4 separate regions of the Homo sapiens genome follow, and all the other regions are linked to region 4. Evidence: fine-mapped expression QTL. A gene starts in region 4. Each other region holds a variant in brackets. All regions are shown on one strand. Distances are between the middles of the regions.

What was found. PIP is the estimated chance that this variant, and not a neighbour inherited with it, causes the effect.
Region 1: its variant is the best candidate, but not a certain one, in a credible set for the expression of SACS in cerebellum (GTEx, PIP 0.88).
Region 2: its variant is the best candidate, but not a certain one, in a credible set for the expression of SACS in whole blood (TOPMed, PIP 0.88).
Region 3: its variant is the best candidate, but not a certain one, in a credible set for the expression of SACS in skeletal muscle (GTEx, PIP 0.62).

What each region holds. Positions count from the first base shown.
Region 1 is chr13:23,930,513-23,938,729 of GRCh38, reverse strand. It overlaps the pseudogene ANKRD20A19P. Among named protein-coding and RNA genes, the nearest start is that of C1QTNF9B, 37 kb to the right of the region's middle. The variant C/T (reference allele first, on the strand shown) is at 4,885.
Region 2 is chr13:23,348,246-23,356,462 of GRCh38, reverse strand. It overlaps SACS (sacsin molecular chaperone), which reads left to right. Exons shown (of 10, transcript NM_014363.6): 8 at 456-1,944; 9 at 2,587-2,678. Among named protein-coding and RNA genes, the nearest start is that of SACS-AS1, 67 kb to the left of the region's middle. The variant C/T (reference allele first, on the strand shown) is at 3,952.
Region 3 is chr13:23,323,203-23,329,520 of GRCh38, reverse strand. SGCG (sarcoglycan gamma) reads right to left here. Exons shown (of 8, transcript NM_000231.3): 8 at 4,359-5,153. The coding sequence ends at 4,980. It overlaps LOC107984585 (a long non-coding RNA gene), which reads left to right and starts at 5,148. Exons shown (of 2, transcript XR_001749787.2): 1 at 5,148-6,318. SACS (sacsin molecular chaperone) reads left to right here. Exons shown (of 10, transcript NM_014363.6): 10 at 1-691. The variant A/G (reference allele first, on the strand shown) is at 4,685.
Region 4 is chr13:23,430,115-23,438,331 of GRCh38, reverse strand. SACS (sacsin molecular chaperone) reads left to right here and starts at 4,630. Exons shown (of 10, transcript NM_014363.6): 1 at 4,630-4,717. RefSeq lists an enhancer at 4,811-5,378.

The sequences.
Region 1 (8,217 bases), 500 kb before region 4:
AGAAGGCTTTGCAAAAAGATGGTGGGGAAAAAGTTTTGGGGTAGATGAAGAAAAAGGGTGATGACGAGAGAGCTGAAGGCTGTCAGGAAAAGAAGGTGGGGAAATAATGGTGGGGGACAAAGGTTTTGGGTAGATCTTTTTCTAATTTTTAAATCAGGTTATATGTATTTTTGCTTTTGAGTAGTTTGTGTTCTTTATCTATTTTGTGTATTAACCCCTTGCCTGATGCATAGCTTGTAAATACTTTCTTCCGTTCTCTAGATTGTTTCTTCATTCTACTGATTGCTTCCTCTGCTTTGCAGAAGCTTTTAAGTTTAATGCAATTCCATTTGTCTATTTTTGCTTTTGTTGCTTGTGCTTTTGTTGTCTATTTAAAAATTCCTTGTCCTAATCAATTTCATGAAGCATTTATCTTATTTTTTATTTTCTGGTAGTCTCATAGTTTCAGGACCTACATTGAAGTTATCTTTATTTTGAGTTAATTTTTGTATATGGTAAGATAACGGTCTAGATTGATTCTTCTACATGTGGGTGTTGGGTTTTCCTAGCACAGTTTATTGAAGAGATTGTCCTTCCCAAATGTGTGTTCCTGGTGCCTTTGTTAAAAATGAGTCGACTGTAAATGTGTAAATTTACTTTTGAGTTCTCTATTCTGTTTTATTTGTCTGTCATTTGTCTATGTCTTGTCTGTTGCTCCCTCATTCTTTTTTTTTTTGCCAGCACCATGCTGTTTTGGTTACTATACATTTATAGTATATTTTGAAATCAGGTAGTGTGATGCCTCTAGCTTTTTTCTTTTTATTCAAGATTTTTTTGTCTATCTGAGGTACGTTGCATTTCCGTGTGAATTTTAGGTTTTTTTTTTTCTATTTCTGTGAAGAATGTCTTTTGTAATTTAACATGGGTTGCATTGATCCTGTAGATCACACTGGGTGATATAGATATTTTAACAATATTCTTCTAGTGCATGAACATGAGATATCTTTCCATTTACTTGTGTCTGCTTTACTATCTTTCATCTATGTTTTATGGTTTTCATTGTGGGATCTTTCACCTTTTTGGTTGTTTGTCCTTACGTATCATTTTTTATAATGAAATAGCTTTCTTGATTTCTTTCATAGGTGTTTCACTATTGGTGCATGGGTGTGCTACTCATTTTTGTATGTTGATATTGTATCTTGCAACTTTACTAAATTTATCTAGTAGGTTTTTTTGGTGGAATTTTTAGGGTTCTTTACATATGATCATATCAGCTGCAAACAGAGACAATTTGACTTCCTTTTTTTTTCCAATTTGGATGCCTTTTATTGTATTTTCCTGTCTAATTGCTGTAGCTAGGACTTCCAGCACTATGATGAATGAAAGTGGTAAAAGTAACCACACTTGTTCCAGATCTTAGGAAGAGCTTTTTTAACTTTTCTGCATTGATCATGATGTTAGCTGTGGGTTTATCATATATGGCCTTTATTATGCTGAGATATGTTCCTTCTTGCACATTTTGTTGAGTTTTTATCATAAAGGTACGTTGAATTTTATTGTTTTCATCGTCTACTGAAATGATTATATGTTTTTTTTTTAAATGGAGTCTTACTTTGTTGCCCAGGCTGGAGTGCAGTGGTGCTCTCTCAGCTCCTCAGCTCATTGCAACCTCCACCTCCAACCCCAACCCCCTCAGGTTCAAGCAGTTCTCCTGCCTCAGCCTCCCAAGTAGCTGGGATTACACTGCCATCACGGTGGCCCTGCTTCTTTTTGTGTTTTTAGTGGAGGCAGGGTTTCACCATGTTGACTGGGCCGGTTTCAAGCTACTGACGTCTGGTGGTCCATTTTCCTTCACCTCCCAAAGTGCTGGGATTACAGGCATGAGCCGCCATACCTGGCTCTTTTTTTTTTTTTTTTTTTTGACAGCATCTTGCTCTGTAACACTGGAAGGAAATGGTAAAATCATAGCTCACTGAAGCGACAAGTTCCTTGGGTCAAGTGATCCTCGCATCTCAGCCTTCTGAGTAGATAGAAAAGGTATGAGATATTTAGGAATCTAAAAAATATATGCACAACCTCTATGAGAAATTTCTTAAACTTTGAGAGTTAATAAGATAGACTGTTAAAATGTTAATAGTTTGGGGAAACAATATTACGCCTTCTCTTTCTAAATTATACATTCAGTGCAATTCCAGTCAAAACCCTTGCTTTGTAAACTCAGCGTTTTGACTATAAAATGTATGTGAAGTTCTTTCCTCCTTTATCTTCCTGAATATTTCAGCTCACAAGTATGGGGACAAAACAGGGAATTGTGTTGACCCAGAGTTAGGGATTGTGGCATGAATTAAATGCGAAGGGCCTAAGTGTCAGAGTGTCACCCTGCACAGTGCTGGAAGACAGTTGAGAGCATTTCTGCAAGGTAGACAAAAGAAATTGAGGTATCAAAGACTGAACAATATCAGGAGCCACCCACAGATGGATGAAAAATGGGTCTTCAGCATCTTAGGGGGGTAAGGATAAGTCATCTACCTAAGAGGGCAGCCTGGGACAGGGTGTTTGAGGAAGGATGGGGTGAAGATGGCATCCATTTGGAAGGAAAATTGGTGGAGGCAACCAATGAAAGGTGCAAGAGTCCCAAGTGGGAGTGAAGAGTATACCTACGTAGGAGCAAGGACACAGGAGATTGGTTACACACAGGAGATGAAATGAATAAATAACAGCAAGTCCTGGAATAATGTCATTTTGTTATAACATTGATGACAAAAATATATATACTGGCCAAAGCCACTGTGTGTATGGAGTTTACACGTTTTCCCCATGTCTGCCTGGGTTTTCTCCAGATACTCTGGTTTCCTCCCACATCCCAAAACTGGGCACAGGTTAACTGACATGTCTAAATGGTCCCAGTGTGAGTGACTGCGGGTGTGTGTGAGTGCACTGTACAATAGCATGTCCAGAGTTGGTTCCCACCTGGGGCCCTGAGCCACTAGATAGGTTCCAGTCCTCTGCTACCCTGAACTGGAATAAGCATGTTGGACAAGGAACAAATAAATGAGTGCAAATTACTATAAAATAAAAATTTGTGAAGTCCATGATAATCACAGATGTTGCAATACACAACGATTTGGTACAAAAGTGCTTCATGAACCTGCCATATTTGTGATTGGTTCTGACTGCATGGAGGTAGGAGGTGATTCTTACAAAATGCACCTTGCCAGCATTCATTTCTTGATTTAACCCACTGCCACTACAATCGCCATCACTCACTGATTCACCAAAAATTGGATGAATGGTATCTATTACTCTTCCTTAAATGTATGCAGAGCTAGCATTCATTTTAATGTTTAATATTACAAGTGTTTTTGTCTGTATTGACATGTTTGGTGATGTTTTTTGGCCAGAAATGTGTCATAGGAACAGATCTTTTGTTTATATCAGTTAGCCTACAGTTAAAACTGGTTTCGTTTCACATCTTCCACTTATTTTCCAAGAAGACCTATTAAATCATGTTAAGTGAGGACTTACTATATACTAAGGATGAAGGGAGCCAGGTTGTGTCAGAAAAGGGAATTACAAATATAGTTGACCCTTGAACAACATGGTTTGAACTGCATGAGTCTACTTACAAGCAGCTTTTTATTTCAATAAATAGACTGAAATTTTTTTTGGAGATTTGTGACAATTTGAAACAGCTTATAGATGAGCTGCATAGCCTAGAGATAAACAAGTTAAGAAAAAGTTATGTCATGAATGCATAATATATATGTAGATACTCATGTATTTCATCATTACTACCATAAAATATATATAATCTATTATAAAAAATACGATTTATTAAAATTTACACATGGTATGTGGCACCATTCACAGCCAAGAGAAAGGTAAACAAACAAAGATGCAGCATTAAACCATAACTGCGTAAAATTAACTATAGTGTACACTGTACTACTGGAATGATTTCATAGCCACCTGTGGTACTGCAGTGAGCAGAACTGTTGCAAGTATTTCCTTAAAATGCTTTGTGATGCTAATCATCTCCACATGAGCAGTTCATCCATCCAAGAAATTGTGTCTCATGGGAAAAAGTGATGATTTATGGTTCTTACATATTTTTCATTGTTTTTAATGCAATACTGTGGAGTCAAATAACACCACGGGACCCATACAGAGTGCCACCATTGATGCTGGAAGGCTCCCAAGAAGTAAAGAAGTCATGACATTGTATTAAAAAGTCTGAAATTGTCAAAATATAACATTTCTTAAAAGAAAAGTTTTTTAAAAATTAACAAATTATACACTATTGGAGAAAATAACCCATGAATCCTTATTGATACAAGTAAATGAATAAATTGAAGGTTTTATGAGGAAGAGATACTTACGTAGTTTCAAATTACCTCCCCACAAGATATTAATTAACAGGACAAATCAAAATTGTAGGACACATGGTAAGATGCAGTGAGACGATTACAGGATCACTTCTGTGATACACTTTACCAAAAATGTAAAATCTCTTTGTACCCCAGACCTCAGCATGATGCAATATACTCATGTAACAAAGCTGCACATGTACTCCCTGGAACTAAAAGTTGAATTTTTTAAAAAGTATAATTTAAATCTAATCACAATGAAACATCAGATAAACCCAATTGTCGAACATTCTACATTACTGGACTTTACTCTTTGAAAGATTCAAGGTCATAAGGTCAAGGGAAAACTGAGGAACTGCTCCAGACGAAGTCTAAGAGACAGAAGAACTAAATGCAATCCACGGGTCTGAATGCATTAAGTAATTTTTCTTAAAATTGTTGCATATTTTCGGCCAGGCGCGGTGGCTCACGCCTGTAATCCCAGCAGTTTGGGAGACCGAGGCGGGAGGATCACCTGAGGTCAGGAGTTTGAGACCAG[C/T]CTGACCAACATGGTGAAACTCTGTCTCTACTAAAAATACAAAATGAGCTGGGCATGGTGGCGCACACCTATAATCCCAGCTACTTCGGAGGTTGAGGCAGGAGAATCACTTGAGCCCGGGAGGCAGAGGTTGCAGTGAGCTGAGATCCAGCCATTGCACTCCAGCCTGGTCAAAACGAGTGAAACTCCATCTCAAAAAAAAAAAAAATTGTTGCATATTCTCATGATGCTTTTCAAACTTGATTTAGATGTAACTCATCAGCAGATCCTGAGTAGATCCTGCAGAAGAGGATAGATTCCATATAGAGGACTCAGATTCAAATTCAGCAGCACCTGGAAGGAAAATGAAAGAATGATGTTCTTTACCTAAAATATTTCACAGTTAGCTAAGTGTCAGTCAGTAAAAAAAAAGTTGAGAAATTTATCTGTGTCAATAGGAAGGAAAAATATGTATGACCACAATACAAAATTAACTATTTAATATTGAATATAATCTGCCCGTAGGTGTGCTTTGAATTGACTATCACTGTGGTTAAGTACCAGAGCTTCTAGTTTTCTCACCCTTCATTCCTGTATTCAGCAACCATGTGACAATAAGCACTGGAATGACAAGATGAAGATGATCAGTTCACTCCTCAAAAATCATATGCTACAACTTGAAAAAACAAACAGGCAATTTCCTTACAGAATCATAGATAACATGACAGGTATACAACACGACACTATTGGAACACACAGAAGGGACACCTATCCCAGTTTTGTGTCAATATTGCAATATTGCAGGCTTTTTGGTGGAGGCACTATATAGGTTCATATCTGAAAAACAAGGAAAAAGTATGACAGAGGGCAGAAGCAAATGCAAAGAGATGAGCAAGAGCACTGTGGAAATCTATGTAGTCTAGTTTGGCTGGATGCTAGAGCACAAGGGTAGAGTAGGGTATGTGGCAAAAGACAAGGCTGAATAACTTGACAAGAACCAAGTTGATGGAGATGTTTTCACTGCATGCCAAGCAACTTAGAGCATTTCCTGAGCACAAAAGTAAACCAATGACAAAGTAAATAATTGGAGATTTAGAATGTCATCTGTCAAATAACTGTTTTTGAACTGTAATTGCTTGGCTAAGTATTATCAGATGACTCTGGTCTTTTGGCCTTAAATTACTACTATGACTTTAAGAAGATGACGACTTTGTTTCCTGAATTCAGTTTCAGCGTGCTGCCTGACAGTTCCATAGGGATGGCAGAAGTGAAGACTATGTAGAGCCAAAACAAAAGAGATACTTAGACTTTTTGAGACCTTTTTAAAGCTATGGAACATGATAAATTAATGAGGCAAAAGTATACTCTTCATTATGAGTATGTGTTTCTATCTTTCATTAAATGTGCATAAGAAAAAATACTTACTGTAGCATTTATGAACCAGACAATGGAGAGGAAAGCCATTTGCTATTTACAGTTTATTTCAGTAATCAAGCTAAATTTAGTTAATAAATTTTGGCAATATACCTTCTTCTATTTCTCTAGTTTTATTTTCTATCAATCCTTGCTGAATCTGAAATAAGCCAAATATTTATAATGTTTAAGTTACACAAGAGAAATTACCATGGAAATGATATATCACTTACAAAATGTCATCTCTCCTACTTGTAGAGACGAGACCTAACTTGAGGATTGCCTAAATAGAAAAATTAACTACATAAATAAAATAAAATTCCTACTTATTTTAAGTTTAGATAAAAGAGAATATATATGTGTAATGCTGTTGACATTAGTCTGATAAAAGTTACAATTAACCTTGGTCTACTGAATGTACATCTTTCAGAAGAGTGAGGTTTTCTTTTACTAGTTACAAAGGTTAAGCAAATCGACTCATAGTTTGCAACAAATGCATTATTTTCTAATTCTTAGCAAAACTCTGCCTGCCCTTTATAAGAATTCAATCTGTGTTTTCTTTTCATTTTGGTAGATTTCTCCTTAAAATAAACTTTCCGTTCTCCTCCTTTAGAAAATTAAAATTTTAGATACATTCCATGTTATTAACTTTTCAGGACAGAATCTTAAATATGTACCTGAAGAAAGTGGTACTGTCATAATATGTGAAAATTCTACTGGTAAAATATTAAGTAATCATATTATTCTATCTGTATTACAACTAACATTTTTATTCATATGGAAAAAAAGATTTTGGAAATTTCACTTGAAAAAAATATATATTAGAACCAGTTTACAAACTTGGTTTATTTCATGACCTGTTAGAATTAGAAACAAAGAAACAATATATAGCTCTATATTTGTATATAGCTCTTTTAAGCTTTTCAGAAATTAGAACCAATTTTTGAAACATCTAGCTAACTATAGTTATCTACTTAGTTATGAAATTGTGGGGATACTTCAAATTATATTGCAAGTGTCTCCCATCTAGTGTTTTATTTAAATCTTTGGTGCAAAAGGTATTCCCTCACTGAATGCCCAGAAAAGAATCTGAAATTGTTTACTAAACATAAGACTTTTTGGTGATAATGACAATATGATATACAATGCCTTTACAAATTTTTGACTAATAGCTTTCCCAATATTTTGAGAGACAGTTTTCCATAATCTTTCTGTGATTATAACATTATAGACAGCCCTTATAAAATTAATGACATGACAATGGCATTACAAGAAAGGTTTTATAAAAGTAATAACTCGACCAGGCGTGGTGGCTCATGCCTGTAATCCCAGCACTTTGGGAGGCCAAGGCAGGCAGATCACGAGATCAGGAGATCGAGACCATCCTGGCTAACACGGTGAAATCCCCTCTCTACCAAAAATACAAAAAATTAGGGCATGGTGGCGGGCGCCTGTAGTCCGAGCTACTTGGGAGGCTGAGGCAGGAGAATGGCGTGAACCCGGGAGGCGGAGCTTGCAGTGAGCGGAGATGGCGCCACTGCACTCCAGCCTGGGCGACAGAGCGAGACTCCGTCTCAAAAAAAAAAAAAAGTGATAACTCAATACCAGGTAAAGGGAGAAGCCTTTATTGAAAGAATGTTATATTATCATTAATGAACACTATGTAAAATGTACATTTTTACATGACTTGTATGTAATATACATATATGTATATGTATTTTATATGTATACATATGAAACGTATATATATGCACATAAAATATGAAATATGTATATATGCACATAAAATATGAAATATGTATATATACACACATATAAAATATATACACATATAAAATGTGTGTATATATATAATTCCTTCATGTAGCTTTTTACAAATAAAAGTTTTATTCTAAAAAAATTTTCAGTTATGAAAGTCATTTAGTCAAACTTTTTAATTTT
Region 2 (8,217 bases), 82 kb after region 4:
CAGGGCAGGCACTCACTGAGCAACACAGTGGGCAGAGTCACCTGCATTGTACTGCTCTCTGTCTCTTCTTACAGAGTCTATGCTGAATTTGTAAAGTTGAGCATAGGATGCAGTCCTGTTCTGTCGAATTGGGCTCACATGGTGGTGGGGGTTAAGTGTATATATCCAAATACTCTGCCCATCTTTTGTGTAGTGAGTTTTTGAAGATGTCTCCTAGGTTTTCACAGTAATCATGCAAAGTCTCTATGCCTGGCATTTGTTATTGGATTGAATCAAAAGAGAAATCATTTTTCATGTTCAGAGAATTACATTTCTGAAGGTAAATTAAGTTTGTGTTTAGATAAATCTGTTTTAGTCATTTAATGGCTCATGCTTTTTCATATATTTATTATAATTGTAATCATAATTGTCCCTAAAATTTCAGAGTTGATCATGACTTAAATTTTTCTTTACAGATGTTCCTTGTATCTTTAGTGGTGACCAAATCGGGATGCTAGATCCTCATCAAACACTTTTTGGCCCACATGAATCAGGCCAATGTTGGAATCTCAAAGATGACAGCAAAGAAATTAGTGAACTTTCAGACCAGTTTGCACCATTTGTTGGCATTTTTGGAAGCACCAAGGAAACATTTATAAACGGCAATTTTCCAGGAACATTTTTCCGTTTCCCTCTTCGCCTACAACCTTCACAACTTAGTAGTAACCTCTACAATAAGCAGAAGGTTCTTGAGTTGTTTGAGTCTTTTAGGGCAGATGCAGACACAGTGCTGCTCTTTCTGAAAAGTGTGCAGGATGTTTCCTTATATGTCCGAGAGGCTGACGGAACAGAGAAACTGGTGTTTAGAGTGACTTCGAGTGAGAGTAAGGCACTGAAACATGAGCGGCCGAATTCTATAAAGATTCTGGGAACTGCTATAAGTAACTATTGTAAAAAGACTCCAAGCAATAACATCACCTGTGTAACATATCACGTAAATATTGTTTTAGAAGAGGAGAGTACTAAGGATGCACAGAAAACATCTTGGTTGGTGTGTAACAGTGTGGGTGGGCGAGGGATCAGTAGTAAGCTTGACTCTTTAGCTGATGAACTGAAATTTGTCCCAATCATTGGAATAGCCATGCCTTTATCAAGCAGAGATGATGAAGCAAAAGGAGCAACGTCTGATTTCTCAGGAAAAGCATTTTGTTTCCTTCCTTTACCACCTGGTGAGGAAAGCAGCACAGGCCTCCCAGTTCACATCAGTGGGTTCTTTGGCCTTACTGATAACCGCAGGAGCATAAAATGGAGAGAGCTGGACCAGTGGAGAGACCCGGCAGCCTTATGGAATGAGTTTCTTGTCATGAATGTTGTCCCCAAAGCTTATGCTACTCTGATCTTAGATTCAATAAAACGTCTGGAGATGGAAAAGAGCTCTGATTTCCCCTTGTCAGTTGATGTTATCTATAAGCTTTGGCCGGAGGCGAGCAAAGTCAAGGTGCACTGGCAACCGGTGTTAGAGCCTCTATTCAGCGAGCTGTTGCAGAATGCAGTGATTTATTCAATTAGCTGTGACTGGGTCAGGTTGGAGCAGGTGTACTTCTCAGAACTTGATGAAAATTTAGAATACACAAAAACTGTGCTCAACTACCTCCAGAGCTCAGGGAAGCAGATTGCCAAGGTACCAGGGAATGTGGATGCTGCTGTTCAGCTCACAGCTGCCTCTGGCACAACACCTGTGAGGAAGGTGACGCCCGCGTGGGTGCGGCAGGTGCTGCGGAAGTGTGCACACCTGGGCTGTGCTGAAGAAAAGCTTCACCTTCTAGAATTTGTGCTTTCTGACCAAGCCTACAGTGAGCTGCTTGGGCTGGAGCTGCTCCCTTTACAAAATGGCAATTTTGTCCCCTTCTCCTCATCTGTATCAGACCAAGATGTCATTTATATTACCTCAGCAGAATATCCAAGGTAGGGGTCCCCCTTCTAACATTCCTGTTCACTCTTAGGGTTCCCCTGCTCCTGCTCACTGTGAGAGTCCTTTGTTGTGAAATTCAATGGTTTTCTATGTCGATTTTATAGTTAGGAAGACTTTTGCAGAAATACATTGTTAAAATACCAAAGGATACATTTTATATTCTAAAATGAAAAAGTATTCAAATGTTTATCAGTTGAAAAGTTATCTAAGCAGCTGTTTTTCTTGGAAATTTCAATAGCAGAACACTGAAAACAATGTTTATAAAGTGCAAATAATAACAAGGCCAGATTAGTCACTAATGAATTATTTTGATAATATTTAAATTCATGAAAAATAGTATATTAAGTAATTCTTTATAAACGAGAGTGTACTGACATTTCAGGAAATAAAATTAATTTTACTGTAAGATGTTGAGAATATTTCTGAATTTGAGTAAAGTACATGATGCCTTCACGTTTTAAAGCAAAGTCTAGATAATATTTGATCAAAAATATTGTAATTTGATTTGATGTGTGCATTATAATTTATGTAAAATAAAATAGTCGGCTTAACTGACTTGAAAATATGTGATTGTTTTTTTAAAATCTTGGAATTGTGGGAAGATTATGATGATTGCTGTTCCTTTCCCTTTTCAGGTCCCTTTTCCCAAGTCTTGAAGGAAGATTTATTTTGGATAACTTGAAACCTCACCTTGTGGCTGCTTTAAAGGAAGCTGCCCAAACCCGAGGTATTATAGTTTAGTATTCTTTTAAATAAACTTCTATATAAAAATACAAGTTTTTTAAAAGTTTTCTGTTATTCATTTTAGACCTATAAATCAACAATTTCTTATGGCTCAAGCTAATAAACTTTTTGTGTTTTAAGATATTTCAGTTGCCAGAATGGCATCTAAGAGATGCTGTCTAAAAGAATCCAGAGGTGATAAGTGTAAAAATCTCTCCTGTCATGGTGTGATGGTGTAGTCAACATCTTATACCTGCATGGTGCTTTACAGTTTTCCAGTGCTTTCCCATTTCTTTTTTCATTTGAGCCTCCCAGCATAACTTGTAGCTTGTTTGGTAATGACAGTGATTATTAAATTTCACAGAAGAGGAGAGAGAAAGGTTAAGATCAAGACCACCAGCCAAGTGCCGAGAGGTCAGGTCTTCCACTTGCCCTGTCCTTGCTCTATTTCTGACACCACTGCCCCTCCATGGTTTTATGTAGTTATGATGCTGGGTTTGCATTAGGCTTGATCAGCTTCTGGGAAGTGTGGACAAATCCAATTAACTCTGTAACAGGGGCAGGAAAAGGGTCTTGCGGGGGTCTTAAAGTGATGGGTGTCTGATAGGTGTCCTTTTAGGAAAAGACAGTAATTTTGGGAAAACAGTCAACATGGTTCTAATTTTAATACTACCTTTCAACTTCTGCAAGCATCCTTTTCCTTGTGAAACTGTTACCTGAGCTTTTTCTAAGTGAGATGTTGTCCTGAAAAGTTCTGGGTTTGTCCTGCTGTTCACATTGTCAAGCATACTCTGTGATGTGTCTTTTATGGAATGTACTTTTTTCTTGTCCAGGATAATGGCTTAGGGAAAGTTGCTAATCATTGTACACCTTTATTCATTAAAATATAAGTGAAATGAGTTGGAATGGGAGAGGCAAGTTAGGTTGGAGTTAAAGTGAGAGTAAAAGAAAATGAGTAGGCAAATGTTGTTTCCCATCAGGGATTTGCATCTATGAGTTGGTAGCTGTGAGACTGACTTTTCAAACGTCTGAGTTACTCATTTAATTGTAATTGTCATCTTCAAAACAACCTTTTTGAAAGTCTAAGCCTGGATTCCTATAAGCCTGCCAATCTTTGCTCTAACGATTTGGAACTCCTTTTTTTTTAATGTTGTATTATATTTTTGTTAAAATTTTGTGTTGAAATATAAGATGCATATAGAACAGTGCACATATCATAAATGTAGGCTTAGTGAAATTTTACCATCTGAACATACCCATGTAAACCTAGATCAGAA[C/T]GCAGAAGATTACCAGAAGATTACACAGAAGATTACCAGCCCCAAAAGCCCCTCTCTTGCCTTTTTCAGTCTGACCATTCCAGGGTAGCCATGACACTGGCTTTAACAGCATAGATTCACTTTGCTAGTTAATCATGCTTTGTATAGAAGGAGCCATGTGGCATATATTCTGCGTCTGGCTTTTATTTGCTGTGATGCTGGTGAGATTCATCCAGATTGTTGCATGGAGCTGTTAACAGTTCTTTCTGATTGTTACGGTATTTTACTGTGTGGTTTATTACTTTCTTTTAAAGAAAATATTTTTGTTGGTGGCAGATCCTTTCTAAGGTGGATGTGGATTTGGAAATCGGCCAAAAGTTATTCAGGGCCAAATCAGGTGAGAAGGGTAGAAGGTCAGCAGAGCATTCTGTTTTTGCTCAGCATTTTCCAAATATCTTGTGGCACAGAGTGTGGCTACAACTTGCTTCTCTAGCCCTGGGTGGATGGGGCAAACCTGTTATATTTTTAGGGATGAGTTAAATGTATAAATTAATATAGAAAACTTGACATCTTTCAAAGTTGCATTTTCCCACTTTTATATGTCTTCATTTTCTCTACTATGGATTCAAGTTGTTATTTTGGTGTCATAATGAAACACTGTGTTTTGTCTCTGGTCTTGGTTAGTTTTCTTGGCATTGTGACACTAGATGTTCATCTAGTGTTTCTGTTAATCACACATCATGTGTGGGTTAGCACTCCCAGAAATTGTCTTGATGGTCACTTTTCTTTATCTAGATTTAAGAGTTAGGCTACTATTTTCATGATTATTTAATAACCCTCATAACTAGCTGTATTAGTCTGTTTTCATGCTGCTGATAAAAACATACTTGAGACTGGGTAATTTGTAAATAAAAAGAAGTTTAATGGACTCACAGTTCCACATGGCTGGGGAGACCTTAGAATCATGGCAGAAGGCTAAAGCCACATCTTACTTGGCGGCAGGCAAAAAGAGAAGGAAAGCCAAGAGAAGGGGGTTTTCCCTTATAAAACTATCAGCTCTTGAGACTTAGTCAGTACCATGAGAACAGTATTCGCTACCACGAGAACACCACCCCTATGATTCAATTATCTCCCACCGGGTCCTTCCCACAACACATGGGAATTATGGGAGTTACAAGTCAAGATGAGATTTGGGTGGGGACACAGCCAAACCATATCACTAGCCTTTAAACTTTTTTAAACCAGTCATATGGGTATCTTCCCACTTATTTTTATCTGTGTGTTCCAGACAAAAATTAGTTTTTGATATAACTTTATTGCCATTAATGGTTTTAATGTTTTGAGAGCATGATGATATAGGGCCTTACGGGGAACCAGTAAGTGACACCTTGCTTTCCTTTCCTGAGTTGTGAGTCAGTGAAGACATAGTGAAGACATAGCAGAGGGATTGAGCAGATGGATGTCAGAAGCCACCTCTGTCACTGATTATTGTGATATTGGAGATTATAGCTGTGGCAGGCATTGGATTTCTATTGACTCCCAGAGTGAAATGGATTAGCTCACCAGTCTAGTCACAGGTAGCCCTGGAAAGCCACAGACTTCCTTCCAGAGGTCCTGCCCCTACTAAACATCTGTCCCTTTGAGTCCTGCTGAGCATGTGCAGATGCTTTTTCTCAACTTACCAATCATGTAAGTCATCTTGCTTTCTGGTGGTATGGGGCCTATTGGGGGAATTAGTGAGTACAGGAGAAGAAAGGCGGAGTATTATGTTTATGGAGCCCCCTTCATATATGGTAGGGAGCATCACAGACATGTAACTACATTTGATATTTTTTGCTCTACATAATGATTACTCCATTGCTTTGCTGACACAGAGCACTATGGAATTCTGTTTATGAGTGATCAGTAAACACTGATTGGCCAGTCTTGGAAGTACTACTGCATAAAATGGAAACATCATATGTTTTTTCTGATATGGAAACTTTTCCTCTAATTCTGTAGCTCAAACAAAATTTGTCACATTATTTAATAATTGTACCTTTTCCTTGTATTACATTTAAAATCCTTAGCTAAATATTGAGCTACTGCTTGTATTTTTAGTGTTTACTTCTACTGCCCCTTTTATTAGCAGTTAAATATGTTTCACTATATTTCATTTCAGGAAAAACAAAACAGACCTCCACCTTGATTTTCTTTCTTGTATTCTATCATAGTCCAGCTTCCGGAAAGAGTTGTCTTATTGTCTGTACTTCCTCCTTATTTATTATCACTCCAAACAGACTTTTGCTTCCACTGTCATTCCACTAAAATAGTCTGGCTGACGTCACTAGTTAATGATTTTTCTGTTACTCAGCTCAGTGGATTTTTCTGTTTCTTTTACCTGATCTCCCAGAAGCTTGGTATTCCTCTTTGAAGCCCTCAGCCATGATGATACCATTCCTTCTTGGCATTCACTGATTTTGCCTGCTTCTCAGAATTATTTGTGAACCTCTGTTCCTCACTTCACTCCCTAAATACGTGTTAGTGTGGGGGCTCCTTCCTCAGCTCTTTTACTTTGTTCCTTTCCTTGAATACATTCATCCACTCCCATGAAAGTGTTAGTGACCACCATATCTTCAGTCACCACCCTAGTCTTCAGAGAGGTAGTGTAGCAGAGATTAAAAACCTGGATTTTGTAGTTACCCAGATCTGGGCTTAAACTTCACTCCTCTATTGTGTGACTTTGAACAAATTTTCTACCCTCTCTGAGCCCCTGTTTCCTCATCAGTAACATGGTAATACAGTACTATCCTTCTAAGGGTATATCTCAAGGTCCCCAGGATTTGATTACAGAAAATTCAGGATTGCTTCACTGCAAGGATAATGAAATAAGGATTGAGCAGAGGATGGGAGCAACCACACCTTGCCAGTTGAGTTGTATCCAAGTTTGTGTTATTGCAGCAGATCAGGTTATTGAAAGCTTCATTGTAATATTTTACTCACAGCAGGCATTATGCTGAAGATCGAATGATGAATACGTAATACATATAGTTTAACATAATATCCGGCACTTAATATAATACTGACAAATGGTAGCTATTGTTAGCATTTTGCACTTGGAATCCCATAAGTATTTCAAAATCAATATTGCAAAACTTTAGTCTTCATCCTCTCCCCAAATCTGTTTCTCATTTTGAGTGATCCCACTGAAAATAACACTACTGTCCACAAGATTGCTCAAGAATGAATCCTTAAATTTTCTTCTTTGTTCCCCACAGTCTCCAGGATCTGTTGACTAAATTTTCTGTGCCAGTCCCTTGGTCTTACTCCACTGCCTATTACAGGTCCTCTAATTTCTCGTAATGTTGTTACTGGACTCTTGCAGTTGATGTCCCTGTCTACAGCGCTTGGGCTTCATCTGATCATGTCACCCTCCTGCTGCAGGTTTTCCAGTGGACATTGAATCTATCAGGATAAATCTAGCCCTGCTAGCATGAACTAGGGGACTTTCCATGATTGTAAACTTCCATGATTTTGGAGTGCTGTCTCACTGGCCTTGGTGCATGCAAGCGCCCTCTTCTGTTCTAATTGCCCTCTTCTGTTCTAATTATACAAGCACTTGTAGGTTGATGAACTTGAATCCTCCCTATATTTCATGAGAGCAGAGAGACCTGTCAGATTTGTTACCACCATCTAGCACAGTGCCTACTTCAGTGTAGGTGCTCAGTATTTTTTTTCCTGCATGAAAATTTTCTCATAGCTGCCCTTTTGTACATGGTGTTCCTTTTGCTTAGAATACTTTCTTTCCATCCTCTACTTTGCCCAGCTAATGTTTATTCATCATTCAGTACTGAGCTCATGTGTCACCTCCAGGAAGCTTTCTTTGACATCTTGCCCTGTGCCTCACCCCTGCCCTGCAGTCTGAGGTGAATGCCTCTCTTTTGCTCTTGGAACCCAGTACATAGTCCATATGATCCTCTTTGCTTTATTAGAATCATGTTTTTACTGTGCTACACTGCAACATCCTTGAGAGCAAGGGCAATCTTTATTTTTATATTTCCAAGGTCTGGCCGAGAGCCTGCTTGCCAAGTTTGACTGGATAAGTTGATGCTTCAGCTGCTGGGCTGGGTGGGGACCGCATGGAGGAGATGGGGCGCAGAGGCCAAAAGGCAAATCTCTTTCTTAGTGTCTGTGAGTTAATAGTTCTCTTCAAATCAGTGTCTTCTGTAATCTTGTTTATTCTTTACAACCATGAGATAATAGAGCCTGTATCTCCATTTGAGAGATTGAGACATTGAAGCTCAAAGA
Region 3 (6,318 bases), 110 kb after region 4:
TTATTTAAATTTTTTTTTAACATCTTATGTTTACAGGCTTCCTGTTTGATGAAGATAGCAACGGAAAACTCAAAATGGTGGCAGTTCTTATTACCAGTTGTTAGTATTGTTTCTGGAAACTGCTTGCCAAGACAACATTTATTAACTGTTAGAACACTTGCTTTATGTTTGTGTGTACATATTTTCCACAAATGTTATAATTTATATAGTGTGGTTGAACAGGATGCAATCTTTTGTTGTCTAAAGGTGCTGCAGTTAAAAAAAAAACAACCTTTTCTTTCAATATGGCATGTAGTGGAGTTTTTTTAACTTTAAAAACATCAAAAATTGTTAAAATCATTGTGTTATCTAGTAGTTTATAATTATCGGCTTATATTTCCCCATGAATGATCAGAACTGACATTTAATTCATGTTTGTCTCGCCATGCTTCTTTACTTTAACATATTTCTTTTGCAGAATGTAAAAGGTAATGATAATTAGTTTATATAAGTGTACTGGCTGTAAATGATGCTAAATATACTTTATGCAATTAAGGGCTTACAGAACATGTTGAAACTTTTTTTACTTTTATTGGGAATAAGGAATGTTTGCACCTCCACATTTTATTGCTTCTGGATGTGAAATCATGTAATTATTTCTGCTGTTATATAAAGTGCCATACTTTTAATAAAGGAAAATGTACATATGAAATCATCGTAATGGGTGTTTCCTGAGAAATAGTTCATTGGAAATCAAACTTAACATCTTAATATTAAGTTTTAATGTGTGTGTATGTGTGTATTTATTGGAAATATTAGGAAAATATTTTCCTGTATATTTTCATGCTGGAATTATAGATTTTTAGGATTAATAGAATATGAAGTGCTTGTTATATACTAGGTTTAGGTGCTCATTGATTTAGTTGAGTTTATGTCACCTTTTTAGGGAATCAGATTAGCTGATATATGTGGTATATATGTGTTTGGAAACAGATACATTAAATATTTTTTTCCTCTAGGTAGAGCTGAATTGATATTTCCATTGCCTCAGGGACAGCTGCATGTCTGGGACTAATTCACACTTTATTACTGACAGATAGGAGTTCTTCATCTTTATAGTTGAGGCACAAGTCTTCAGAGTTAGGCAGATGAGGGCTAAGAGTGCTCTCTGTTCTGGAGCTACCTGAATTCTGTGCCTTCAGCTTTATTTAAAGTACTTGCTACTTCGAAGCTTCAATTCAGCATTTAGATTTTATTGCTTTTGAATATTAAAATTTACACAGAAAACCTCATTTGGCCTTGATAGTTGATCTAGTTGGAGTTTTGTGTTTTTCCAGGCAAAAAAAAACCCCTCATAATTTGATTTTAGAAAGTTAATACAATTATATATAACTTTTTAATGAAGTGCTCCCACCAGGGACAGGCTGTACCTGTAATCAAACGCATTAGTATTTCTGCAGTTAAGGCTATGAGGGTTCACAGTAAATTGAATACACAGACCTGATCAATAGCCTTATGTAATTTGAATCAGCTTTTGCCACCAATAGTTTACAGCAGACTTATTTGAAAATTTTCACTTTTTCAAGCTTTTTAGATACTGAAATTGAGGATAAGGAATTTTGGACCTGAACTATTTTGTTATTTTACGCTTCCTCCACCCTCTTCCATAGTTTGCTTCTTTTAAAAAGAGAAAGGAAGCTGTCTACTGCTGTGTGGATCAGCTGCTCCTGAGTAGCATGCAGTCTAGGAAAGGGATGGAGCAGCTTCTGCACTCGTGAACAGGGTCTTTGCTGCAGAGGCTCCAGGGACAGGGACAGGGCATCCCCAGAGGGATGGCTCGATTGTTCATAGTCTCCGGGAGGAAACAAGTGAAAAACTTGCACCATACAATTCGTTAACGGAGCAGGGAGTGCCGAGAGCCCAAAAATGATTTGGGAAAAATCTTAAAATAGTATTTAACAGAATGAAGAGGAGTTGTTCACAGGTCTGAGTTGTTCACAGGTCTGATTTTGGGATGAGTAGGATTTATTTCTTTCATTGGTGCCAGTTGACATTTTTGGTAGTTTAAATGTTTTGTAGATCTCAAGGATGACATTTATATAGTGCTGGTAGAAAATAGCATATAGAAGCATATTTGAAGTGGAATTTACTATGTGAAGAAGACTGCTAAAGCCAAGTAAGAGGCGATGTTTCAAATCGAAGGGGACACAAAGCTGCATCAGCAGACACAATCTGAAAACCATCGTGCACAAAATTCTGCTCGTTCAGAAGAGCTTCTACCCTCATTCCCTGTTTCCCATAGGAGCACAGACTGAAGTTTTTGGATGACCTAGTGGGGGTTGGCGGGGGGAACCCAACACACATGGCTTGACTCTTCTAATGTGAATTTGACTGCTTTCAGAGAAGGCATCTGTCCATCCTCCTCATGTAGCAGTTATAGAAGTTGGGAGCCTTTAGTTCTGCCTGTGACCAGAGTGGTTTGTGTTTTATTCAGCTGTGAAGTTATTAGGAAGTCCATTTTGCTGCAAACCAGCTATCTTTATCATTATTTTTTATTTTATTTATTTATTTTTTTGAGATGGAGTCTCACTCTGTTGCCCAGGCTGGAGTGCAGTGGCACAATCTCAGCTCATTGCAACCTCCACCTCCTGGGTTCAAGCAAATCTCCTGCCTCAGCCTCCTGAGTAGCTGGGACTACAGGCACCCGCCACCACGCCCAGCTAATTTTTTGTATTTTTAATAGAGATGGGGTTTCACCGTGTTAGCCAGGATGGTCTCGATCTGCTGAGCTCGTGATCTGCCTGCCTCGGCCTGCCAAAGTGCTGGGATTACAGGCGTGAGCCACCGCACCTGGACCACTATCTTTATTATTAAAGCATAATAGTAGTAGATTTTGATCTTCATCTTTTTGACTGTATCTACTTGTCAGTTCATAAACTGGGAAATAAATGAGTGCTATTTTTAGATCCCTAATGTAGCAACACTCAATAGTCTATAGGAGTATCAGTCTATATACCCCGTGATGTACGTTTATAACCATGACTGTATGCCTTCAATGAAAATTTATATGTTTAATAAGACAGATATATGTAATGCATTTTAGAATACAGCTCATCTAAAAGCTTTGATTCTAATGAAGGATAAATTCCTTATTGTGGAGAATGCATTTATCTGTAACAACTTCTTTCAACATTATTCCATATAGCTAAGGATAAAAAAATAGAATTTAAACCTTTTATTCAAAAGGTTCTGTTCTCCACACTTTCTACTTGACTATTTTTATTTACCTCACTTTATCATCTACACACAAATTTTTGGACACATAATATGAGAACCAAGCTAGTTTATAAATGTTTAGTGATCTAGTGATCCCGTGTTTTATCAGCTGGGCTTGAAGACATATTTCGCACAAACAGGGAACAAAATACCAGGAACCATTTACTATGACAATAGGAATGTCACAGTAAGAAAGCAGTTTACTCAGGACTCAACCAAATGGAAAAAGGTAAATATCAATTTATAAGTAAAAGCACCCAACTGCCTGTGAAATGTGAATTACACTGAGTTGAGTTTGCTCTTAACTGCTTGGAAAGCACTGTATTTTTATTTTGCAATTTCAAGTGTTTATGCATTCTGGCCATTTAAACATCAGGGAGTTGTTATGAGCAGGCTATGCTGTTAAATGAACATCTTACTAAGCATTAGGAATAGAGTTCACTTTTGTACTTTCTCTTGATTCTGAGACTATGGAAAATGAATTTGAACTTATATTGATAGTTATTAATATGTCATATCATTAGAAAGTTGCAGTGCTGTTGGTCTCCCTACACCTATTTGAAGATTCTTCTTATAATAAGTAAAACAAAAACAAATGCACCACTTTTTGTGATAGAGGGCATTTTACAAAGTGAGTGGGTGGCCTACACAAAACGAACCTGTCTTCAGAGGTTCAGTGTGTCCTATTTGATTTCTATAGCACCTTACACAGCCAATTGGCACTAAACATGTTCACAAGCTCTGAGTGTCTTGTTTCTATGAAGTTACGTCCAGACTTGTGTCTATCATGTGGAGGCAAGTACCACAGACTAGCCCTTTGATCTTGGTAGAGACAAAACCTCTTTGGGCTTCAGTTTCTTTGTTTGTCAAATAAGTGCTGTACAATTATCACATAGACGGGTGTTTTGGAGACAGCACATGAAACTTTTTCAAAGTGAAAAGAGCTATGTAAATTTAGGGTTACATTTTGGTTTAATTTCAGTAGTTACCATGTGACCTTGTGACTTGTTCTACCTGAGCCTTTGTCACCAGTAACTTGGGGAAAAATAATAGCTACCTCAAAGATTTGTGAGGATTAAAAAAGACACTCTTAAACTGTGAACTCTGAAAAATGAGGTTTTTATTGCTTATTGACTATATACAGAAAGTTTAATTTTGAGTGATTTATTCCTTTAACTACATCTTGAAAACCAGATCAACCTCAAATTCCCTTCAAAACTTGAAAATTTTCTTGTGAAACCTGACTTACTTGCATTAAACTGAAGGGAGGATGTGAGGTTTGAATGCTATAAAGGAAATGCTGTATAGAACTTTGGGGCATTTTAGTACTGAGCAAGGCTACTCTCAACAGGGCATTAGATATCCACAGTGGAGCGTCATACATTAACTCCACACGGCAACTCAACACTCAGTGTGTGCCCACACGGAC[A/G]AGATAGGGGGAGGCGAGGCAGAGAGAATTCGCAATTGTTCCGGTGAAAATTAATCCAGTGGAAAAACACATTGCTTTTCCATTTTGTCAACTTTTGTGTCTCACATCCACGTGCATTTTGAGATCATGTAGTTTTTGTCCAAACACTTTCACTGGCACATAATTTTTTCTGAGTTCCTCTGGAAGCGTTTACTTCCCATCCACGCTGCCTCAGTCTTTCACGATGTGCAGCTGCTCCCTGGGTGTGAGGATCTGGGGCCGGCACTGCACAGCTCACCGAGAGGACGCAGGCAGCTCAGAGGCAGATGTGGTTGTGCTCCTGGCACGTGGTGCTCACACCGGCCACAGACAGGTACAGCTTCCCATCTGGACACACACAGATTTCGTAGAGGCTCTGTGAGCTGCCAGAGGGACCCCACGTCCCCTGCACCAGCTTGGGTAAGCACACAGTTTCAGCATCAAGCACAAGCTGGTTGGGAGAAGATGAGAGACGAAGAGTTAAGGAAGGGCCACCCTGGTCAGCAGCAAATCCCCATTCTCACAAGATTTCCAATTAGTTTCTTCTCCTCATAGAAAACAAAATAGGCACCTGACTTTATGTAACTCATTTCGTAATTATCCGATTCTTTTAAAGCCCAGTTCTATTTTACATGCAGGCTGGGACTTCACAATTCCTTCCACATTGGAGGGAGGCGCTTTTCCGGTTTGTCATTGTTTGAGTGCAGCTGAGAAATGTGGCCCCATTGTGAAAACATGTTTCACCTTTACAGTTTGTTTTTGTTTCAATAAACTGGGTTGCTTTTCAGTTTTGTGATGCTATGCTTCTCAAAACGCCTTTCAGAATTATTTGTCAAACATATTAGAATTCTCCCGATTCACATTTATCTTGTGACTCACTTTGACTTTATGTAAATCCTCTCCTCCCCATTAGGATAAAGTACAATCCATTAGAATAGATTCATCTTAATAATTTTTACCCATGAATGATGAAGTTTATCCTGATTTTATTCCTGATTTTGTTTTCCTATGAGAGGCAATTAAATTCATCCTATTAGCTGGCAACCATTTCCCTAATTTTTATATATTATTTGAAACTGCACAGCCTCCTATTAGATGCTGAAAAGCAGTAGACACGCAGACTAAGCCAATTAAAATGAAATGAAAACTACTGGATATTCTGGTCATATGATAATTTAGTTAAACTGAAGTGCAAACAAAGAGCCGTAGATTGAGGCTTGGAAATCTTTTTGATAAGGAAATAAAAATCGTCACATCCAGCAGCCAAACGTTGCCCACTCCAGGGCACTCACTTGTTACAAGGAATTAAACTGAATGTGGGTAGGCATAATTCTGTCCTTGCCAAGGAGAGCTCCTTCCTTTATGTTATGTGGCTCTTATCCTTGCCTTCCAATCTATTAACAACCTGCTGTCTGCTGCACGCATTCGCCGGTGTGCACCTGCCAGGTGAGGCTTGATCACACGACCCCACAGCATTGCAGGCAGCTCTGTGCCGTGCATGGTCTGGTGCAGTCACGGTCAAAGAAGTCAAATAGCTGTTAATATGTTTTTCAAGTAGAATCTTTAGGTTATTATCTAACGCCTCATTCTTGATTTTTATTTCTGCATTTCTCTGC
Region 4 (8,217 bases):
GCTATCTCATTGTGGTTTTGATTTGCATTTCTCTGATGATTACTGATGATGAACATTTTTCATTCATTTTTAGCTTTTGATTTAAAGCGAGAGATATGTGATTATTTCTTTCACTTGAACACTTAGAGGCCACTGTAGTGTTATTCACAGGCATAATTTCAATATTGTTGTGCCTCAGGGAATAGGGAAGCCTGAGTGGGAGCGAGAGAGAGAGGCAGAGAGAGAGGAGGGGAGAGACAGAGAGAGAGAAACAGTGAACAGCTGGTCAGTGGAGCAGTCAGAACACACAACATTTGTCAATTAAATTCACCGTCTTATATGGATGCCACTTGTGGAGCCCCAAGACAATTACGATAGCAACATCAAAGATCACTGATCACAGATTACCATAACAGATATAATAATCAGAGCTTGAAATATTGTGAGAATTACCAAAATGTGACACAGAAACACAAACTAAGCACGTGCTGTTGGAAAAATGGCTCCAATAGTCTTACTCAAGGCAGGATTGTCATGAACCTTCAATTTGTAAGAAACATAGAATCTGCATTGTGCAATAAAGTGATATGCAATAAAACGAGGTATGCTTCTATTCCCATTTCACAGATGAAAAAACTGAAGGTCAAAAATCATGTGACTTTCCCAGACAGTTCCTGGTTTGTAGATATTTAATCTCTATAATCCCTGACAAGAGCAATCATTACTATTGAGCATGCTGGCATGATGTGCCAGTGAGTTAGTAAAACCGGTGATATTGGTCAGGGTTCTCTAGAGGGACAGAATTAATAGGATAGATGTATATATAAAAGGGAACTTATTAAGGAGTATTGACTCACACGATCACAAAGTGAGGTCCCACAATAGGCCATCTGCAAGCTGAGGAGCAAGGAAGCCAGTCCGAGTCCCAAAACCTCAAAAGTAGGGAAGCCAACAGTGCGTAGACTCCTGGTCTTTGGTCTGTGGCCAAAGGTCCAAGAGTCCCAAAGCTGAAGAACTTGGGGTTCAATATTCATGGGTAGGAAGCATTCAGCACTGGAGAAAGATGTAGGCTAGAAGACTAAGCCAGTCTAATCTTTCCACATTCCTCTGCCTGCTTTTATCCTAGCTACTCTGGCAGCTAATTAGACTGTGCCCACCCAGATTGACGGTGGATCTGCCTCTGCCACTGACTAAAATGTTAATCTCCTTTGGCAACACCCTCACAGACACACCCAGGAACAATACTTTGCAGCCTTCAATCCAATCAAGTTGACACTCAATATTAACCATCACAGATACAGAAGCTAAGACTCCAAAACTATGACTAGATGCCGAGACTTAGCTTGTATCATTCAGGTTGAGCTGCTAACCTTTCTGAGTTGATAAAATCTGACCCTCATACAGATTGAGGAAGAGGCCAAGAAAACCATGTGGTCTCCAGGCCACATGTGAGCAGAGCTTTGGCCACGTGATATGGCTGGAACGAAAGACTGGCACGGTAGGAGCAGCAGCTGGGAGGATCCAGGGGAAGGAGTCAGCATATTGCAGCAGCTCTTTGAAACCTCTGGACAAGTGGCAGAGACTCATCCTCTAGCTGCACTTTTGTGGTTCTGGACAGCCGTGGCACCAGGTCATATTTTCTCATGTTCTAGGCTCAGCTTAGGGTAAGGTGGAGACATTGACTTAGGGTTCTCCAGAGAAACAGAACTAAAGATATTTATAGATATGTAAGAAGGGATTTATTATGGAAATTGGCTCATGTGCTTGTGGAAGCCAGTAAGTCTCCTGATCTGCCATCTGCAAGCTGGAGAACAAGGAAAGCTGTTGGTGTGATTCAGTCTGAGTCTGACTGCCTGAGAACCAGGCGAGCTGATGGTGTAAATCCTAGTAGAAGGCCAAAGGCCTGAGAATGAGGTGGGGTGCTGGTGTAAGTCCTGGAGTCTGAAGATCTGAGAACCAGGACCTCTGATGTCCAAGGTAGGAGAAGATGGGATGTACCAGCTCAAGGAGAGAGAGGGAGAGAATTTGTTCTTCCTCTGACTTTTGGTTCTCTATCTGGGCCCTCATGTGGGATGATGTCCGTCTACATGGGTGACAGCAGAGCTTCTTTACCCAGTCTAGTAATTCAAACGCTAGTCTCTTTGGCAGACACCCTCACAGACACACCCAGAGAGGATGCTTTACCAGCTATCTGGGTATTCCTTAGCCCAGTCAAGTTGACACCTAAAATTAACCATCACAGACAGATTGACCTCTGACTTGGGTATGTTAACGGTCAATCTTTGCCCAGAATGTGGAAGATCTGTGGTTCATGAATTATCCAGAAATCTTTGCTTTCTTAAATTTTTAGGACAAAGTCTAAATCTTTTGACAACAACATTCCAATAGCATAAATGGCACCATAAGTGTAAATGAACTCATATGGTTTATTTCATGTGCCATTGTATCTGGACAGTGGCATAGTGAAGGGCTTGCAATGCACATGAAATCACCTTCCAAATGTGTAGAAAGTCACATATAAACACATGCAATTTGTTGTAACAGTAACAAGGTGTATCACAGGCAGTGCTCACAAGGGTATTTAAGCTTTGACTTCTACATTGCAACACTATTTTTTGTCTTTTTTTTTTTTAATTTTAGAGATGAGGTCTACTCTGTCGCCCAGGCTGGTGTGCAGTGGTGCAATCATAGCTCACTGTAACCTTAAACTCCTGGGCTCAAGTGATCCTCCCACCTCAGTCTCCCGAGTAGCTAGGACTGCAGGCATGCACGACCAATGCCTGCTTAATTTTTTAATTTTTGTAGAGATGAAGTCTTGCTATGTTTGTTTTTGTTTTTTTGGGACAGGGTCTCACTCTGTTGTTTAGGTTGGAGTGCAGTGGCACAATCTCAGCTCACTGCAACCTCTGCCTCCCAGGTGCAAGCAATTCTCCTGCCTTAGCCTCCAAGTATCTGAGATTACAGGTGCACACCACTGCACCCAGCTAATTTTTGTATTTTTAGTAGAGATGGGGTTTCATCATGTTGGCCAGGCTGGTCTTGAACTCCTGGCCTCAAGTGATCCACCCACCTCGGCCTCCCAAAGTGTTGGGATTACAGGCGTGAGCCATTGCGCCCAACCTGAGGTCTTGCTATGTTGCTCAGGCTGGTCTCAAACTCCCGGCCTCAAGCAATCCTCCTTCCTCAGCCTCCTGAGTTGCTAGGACTACAGGCATGTACCACCACACCTGGCTAAGCAACACTATTTCTGAATAATCAATATTTCACTGGATACTTTTATGTAGTGTGAGTAGGTAGGCAAAATCGTCTAACCTCTCTGAAAACTATACATATATATTATATATATAGTTTATATATATGTAGTTATTTATAACTTTTCCCTTTGGGGGTGTAATGGTTTACAGCTGTGAGTAGAAGAGCCTGCTGGGGGAGCAACATACTGGGTATTCACCGTTTAGTCTACGGTGTCTAGCTGATGCCAGGAACAAGCAAGGGCTCAATATTTGTGTGCTGAATTAAACTGATTACAACTGAACCATGTAAGAATGGTGGTAGCCTCAGAGAGGCAGCCTCACTCCACAGGCGCATGCCACCGAGGGCCTGTTGGTCCACACGGTGCTACAGTGAGAGCTCAATGAAAAGGCCCTGCAAGACACCATTTCTCCCCAATAGAAATGTGCTTTGTTTGTGATTATTCAGTCCTTTTGTTAGAACAGGTCTCCCACCTATCTCCCAGGAAATAATATGTACACAAATCTGTGAGTCTAGGATGTGAAGGAGACACCATTAGATGTGGCATCTTCTGGGTCAGACCAGTGCAGGGCCAGGTACAAGAAGCAGGGGCTCTCCTTCCCCAGTTGCTGCTGACATTTGGGGCTTGCTTTGGTCTTCTCCCAGGAGAGATCATTTGAGCCTTTTCAGGTCTGGAGTTGTTTGAACTGACTTAAGAGGAATTTTCCGCAGGAACGAAGCAATAAGAAGCTTCCGAGATCCAGTATTTCCAGATAAGCCAAAATTCTAGATTTATATGGATAAAGCAGGCAGTTCTACTAGGAGACTATCATGAGGAATATGATGTACCCAGGCCAGTGGCAGGATAGCTGTGCGCCGAAATGAAATAAATGCTGGTGGTATTTCACATACCCCATCAGAGGAAGCAAGAAAATAGAGTTACAATATTTTGTATTATTAAATTGAGACTAGCAATTTCAACTTAGAACAGGATCAATTGTATAGCATTTCACAGTTTACCACACATTTTGAGTGAATGCTTTTTTTTTTAACCATTGGAACCTCATAAACAACTCCAAATAACATACAAAAAGCAGATTGTGAGCTACAACATTACCAGGTCACAGGTCTTCATTTCCCATGAGGTACTCGAGACCCATGAGTGACTTGTCTAAGGTCACACAACTGGTGTTTAATAGAGCCAGTCTTCTGTTAGCCATACCTACTGCTAAAAATTAGCCTTTGCAAGTGAAGAGAACAAAAACGTGTGGTTGGTTGTCACCCCCACAATGAACGACAATGCTGCACTTGCAGCATTATTGACACCTAAGGTTGATGACAGTCCTGTCTCTTTAAGAAGAAAAAAAAAGGCTGCTGGGTAGGGGGAGCGACTGACTGCGGCAGGAGCCGCCTGGACCCAGTGCGGCTGCGGGACAGTCACGCTGGGAACTGCTGATGGCACTGGAGGAAAACAAAGGCCGAGAGACCCTGATGCCCACAGCCCCCAGTAAGTCCAAGGTTCCAGCTGGGTGGCCAGCGAGGGCAGCTGCAGGAGCGGCCTGGGGACGGGCAGGCTCCATGGTGTTGTTGGCCATCCGTCCCCTGAGCCTTGGGAAACCAGGGCTCGGCCACTGCAGCTGCTTGGGGGAGGTAAGGGGCCACTTTCCTTTAACATACCCGCCTTCGGAGAGGACAGAGACGAGAGGGCCTTCAGCGTGCTGTACAGCTGTGAGTAATGAGCTCTTCTGAAAATGTACAGTTTGGGTTGGCTGCTTGTGAATTTGTGGGTGAGGAGCGGCTGCAGGGTGACTAGAGAGATCTGCCGCGGTCAAGATGCTGGACTAGCCGCTTTGTCATTTTAATTTCCACCCGGGTTGCCAGGCACCGCCACAATGGAGCTGTTGCAGTAACACAGCGTGGGGTCCAGAGTCTTATTGAACAATAAGATGGGATTCTCAAAGTAGCTTACGGTTAATTTGCAGAATTGCTCTCACTTTAAACAGCATGCCTTCAAACAATGCCATATGTTATGGTTATCTTATATAATATTTGAAAATCCTGCTTTTAGTTAAAAAATATTTCACATATTTAATTTTATTCTAATAAGCGATCATTAGATTCTTTGAAAGAGTATTCCAGCTTTAGCAACAAAACCTCTCTCTCGCTGTCTTTTTTTCTTCCTTAAAACGAGGTCAATACCTCAGAGAAGAGGACTGGATTTGTTTCTATTAAAACATATCAATTGTTTTGGCTTTAATCTTAATTCTCTCTGCCCCTGAAGATGGATAAAGCCCATTCCGCTTAAGTAAAAGGCAGAAGCCAGGTTGAATCCACGTGCTTCCCAAGCGCAAGCTGCTCTGAAGTTATTTTGAAGGGGAACTCTTCATTTCTCCATCAGTGCAGATAAAAGTAATTGATTCACAGGTCATGGATGAAAATAATAATAATAATAATAAATAATTGACAATCCCATTTTATTTGTCACATGACAAGTAGATTTGCCATTCTGTTTTTCTTAAGCTGCCCATTGATAACCAGACTCATTCTACGTTAATGCAGGGTCATGATGTCCCAGTAGTTTTACTTATGACCATCCAGACTGCCTTCCCTAATCTTGCCCTGAAGCCTCACTTTGGGCTGTGACAACGATCCCCAGTTTCCTTTCCTCTATCCTCCTTAGCCGTCCCTTTCATCCTTTCTTCTCCTTCCTGGGCTGTTTGGGCAATTTTTTCTTTCTTTTCTCCTTGGATCTTAAAGACTCCTTCAGTCTCCCTTTCAAACAAAGCAAGCCAGATTTTCTACATACCCTATTTTCCTTTAATCTTACTTGGTTTATAAGAACTTTTCCACGATTAAGTGTTTTCTATTCTTCACATAATAGGAAGAAAAGTCCAATTATAGAACTTGAAGACCAAGGTTTGCTTACATCTGAAGCATCTCAAAACCATTGCTTTACGCAGGACTTGCCCCCAGAAGCCCCGGGTTCCAATCTCAGGTCTACCACATCCTTACTCTGCAGCCCCTGACAATCCACATAACTTCTGTGAGCCTCAGTTCCCTCCTGTGTCAGAGATGACACAATTATTCACTTAATGGTCACAGGGTTGAAACCAGGTGATTTGTATGAAGGCGCCTAGCAGGGTTCTTCACACAGTGTCACTATTTAGTAAGAGTTTTGTCGTTTTCTCACTCAGTCCACCATCTACCTAACCACCATGGTGAAGCATGCTAAAGTGGTTCATGCACCATTTCCCAAAAGGAATAAATTTTGAAATGAACTTTTGGCTGAGTGCATCTGAATGAGTCCTGATCAGTACAAAATACATATTCAGTTCTTGCTATGCACGAAACACTGTTCTAAGCCCTCTTGTCTATAAAAGGAACGCTGATGTTTCCATGTTGCCATAGGAGTATTCTTTGGAAGAAGGAAGGCCGATTCTCTTTGTACAACTCTTCCTAAATCCTTTAAGACAGCAGCAGTGATGATGATATTGACCACTCCCACCATGAGCCTACATGAGGACTACTAAATGTGATTGATGCAGAGGATGCCAAATTGGAAGTCAGGACAATTCCCATTGCTATTCTGATCTTGGACAGCCTGGGTGGCAATTTGCTCTTTGCAATGACAATCCTGTTACTATTTTAATTTCTACTTTATGTGTCTTTCTCCTGCCGTCTTTCCTTTCCTTAACTCACACTCAGGATATTGTGTAAGATTTTAACGTCTAGGAGAGGCCGTTTCACCCCTACCTAAGGGGGAACATAGCGAAGTTGGGAAAAGCACTGGATTGGGGACCAAAGGGTGTGGCTCCAGCCCTGCTTTGACTTCTCTTTGTGCTAATTAGAAAGCCTTTTAACGCCATCTCTAAGGCAAGAGACATAGAATAATCTTTCAATTTCCTTCAGGTTCTGACTAGATGATTCAGATAGCTCTCTTTGGGGTAGCCTCAGTTTACAACAATTATTTGATCAAATTAAATGCTTTTATCTCATTGATTCTTACAATAGCCTTATGAAACAGGCAGCCCCATTTTGCAGATTACAAAATGCAACCTTAAGAGAGAGTAGAACCCCAAGTATTTCTTATTAGTAAAAGGAGAGACTGACTAGATGGTAAGACTCGATTCCCTTGGGGAGCATCACTGAGTTCTCAGACTGAACTCTGAGCTCTGTTCCTACCATGGTATCCCCCTCAAGGCACTTCAAATTGACGACGATGTGAAACCCAAGGTGACACGTTGGTTCTGGGTTTTGTCAGGAGAGATCTGTGGTCCAATTATAATAACCTTACATCCAGACAAACATTTGTTTTAAATATTCTGCTCGAGATTACACCATGAGTTTGTCATCTGGGGCAGAAAATAAGGGCTCTACAGTCCACATAGCCTTTTAATGTGTTCTGAAATGACATTTAAAAATAAATCAAAGCCATCCTAATATAATTATTGGTGATCATTTAAATCCTTACCTCATTAAAGTACTAAGTGCTAGAAAGGAGTATTTGAATTCTATACGTATCTAGAATTTGTGCACATTTTCACATAGTACTACTTTAGCCTTTTTCCTTGTTTTTAATGCAATGATAAATTTCACCATTTAAAAACCCTGATAGGATTACAAGATTAAATACAAAAAATATTGCATAAGACATAAACATACTAAAAAATAATTCGTGGTTTATCTGAAACTCAAACTTAAGGTGTATATGTTTATATTTATAATTTTTATTTGCTAAATTTGGCAATATGATATAAACAGAGCTTTACTTGATCAATGATAGTTACTTAGAGCTTAAGGATATTAGTTTGTTAGGTCTTTAAGCTTCAAACATAAATTACAACCAATCTTTATGAGTTTTTTGTCAATTACACCAAATATTCCTTTAGTTTTATTTATTAATTTTTTTTTTTTGAGATGTTGTCTAACTCTGTCACCCAGGCTGGAGGCCAGTGGTGCAATCTCGGCTCACTGCAACCTCCACTTCCCGGGTTCCAGTGATTCTCC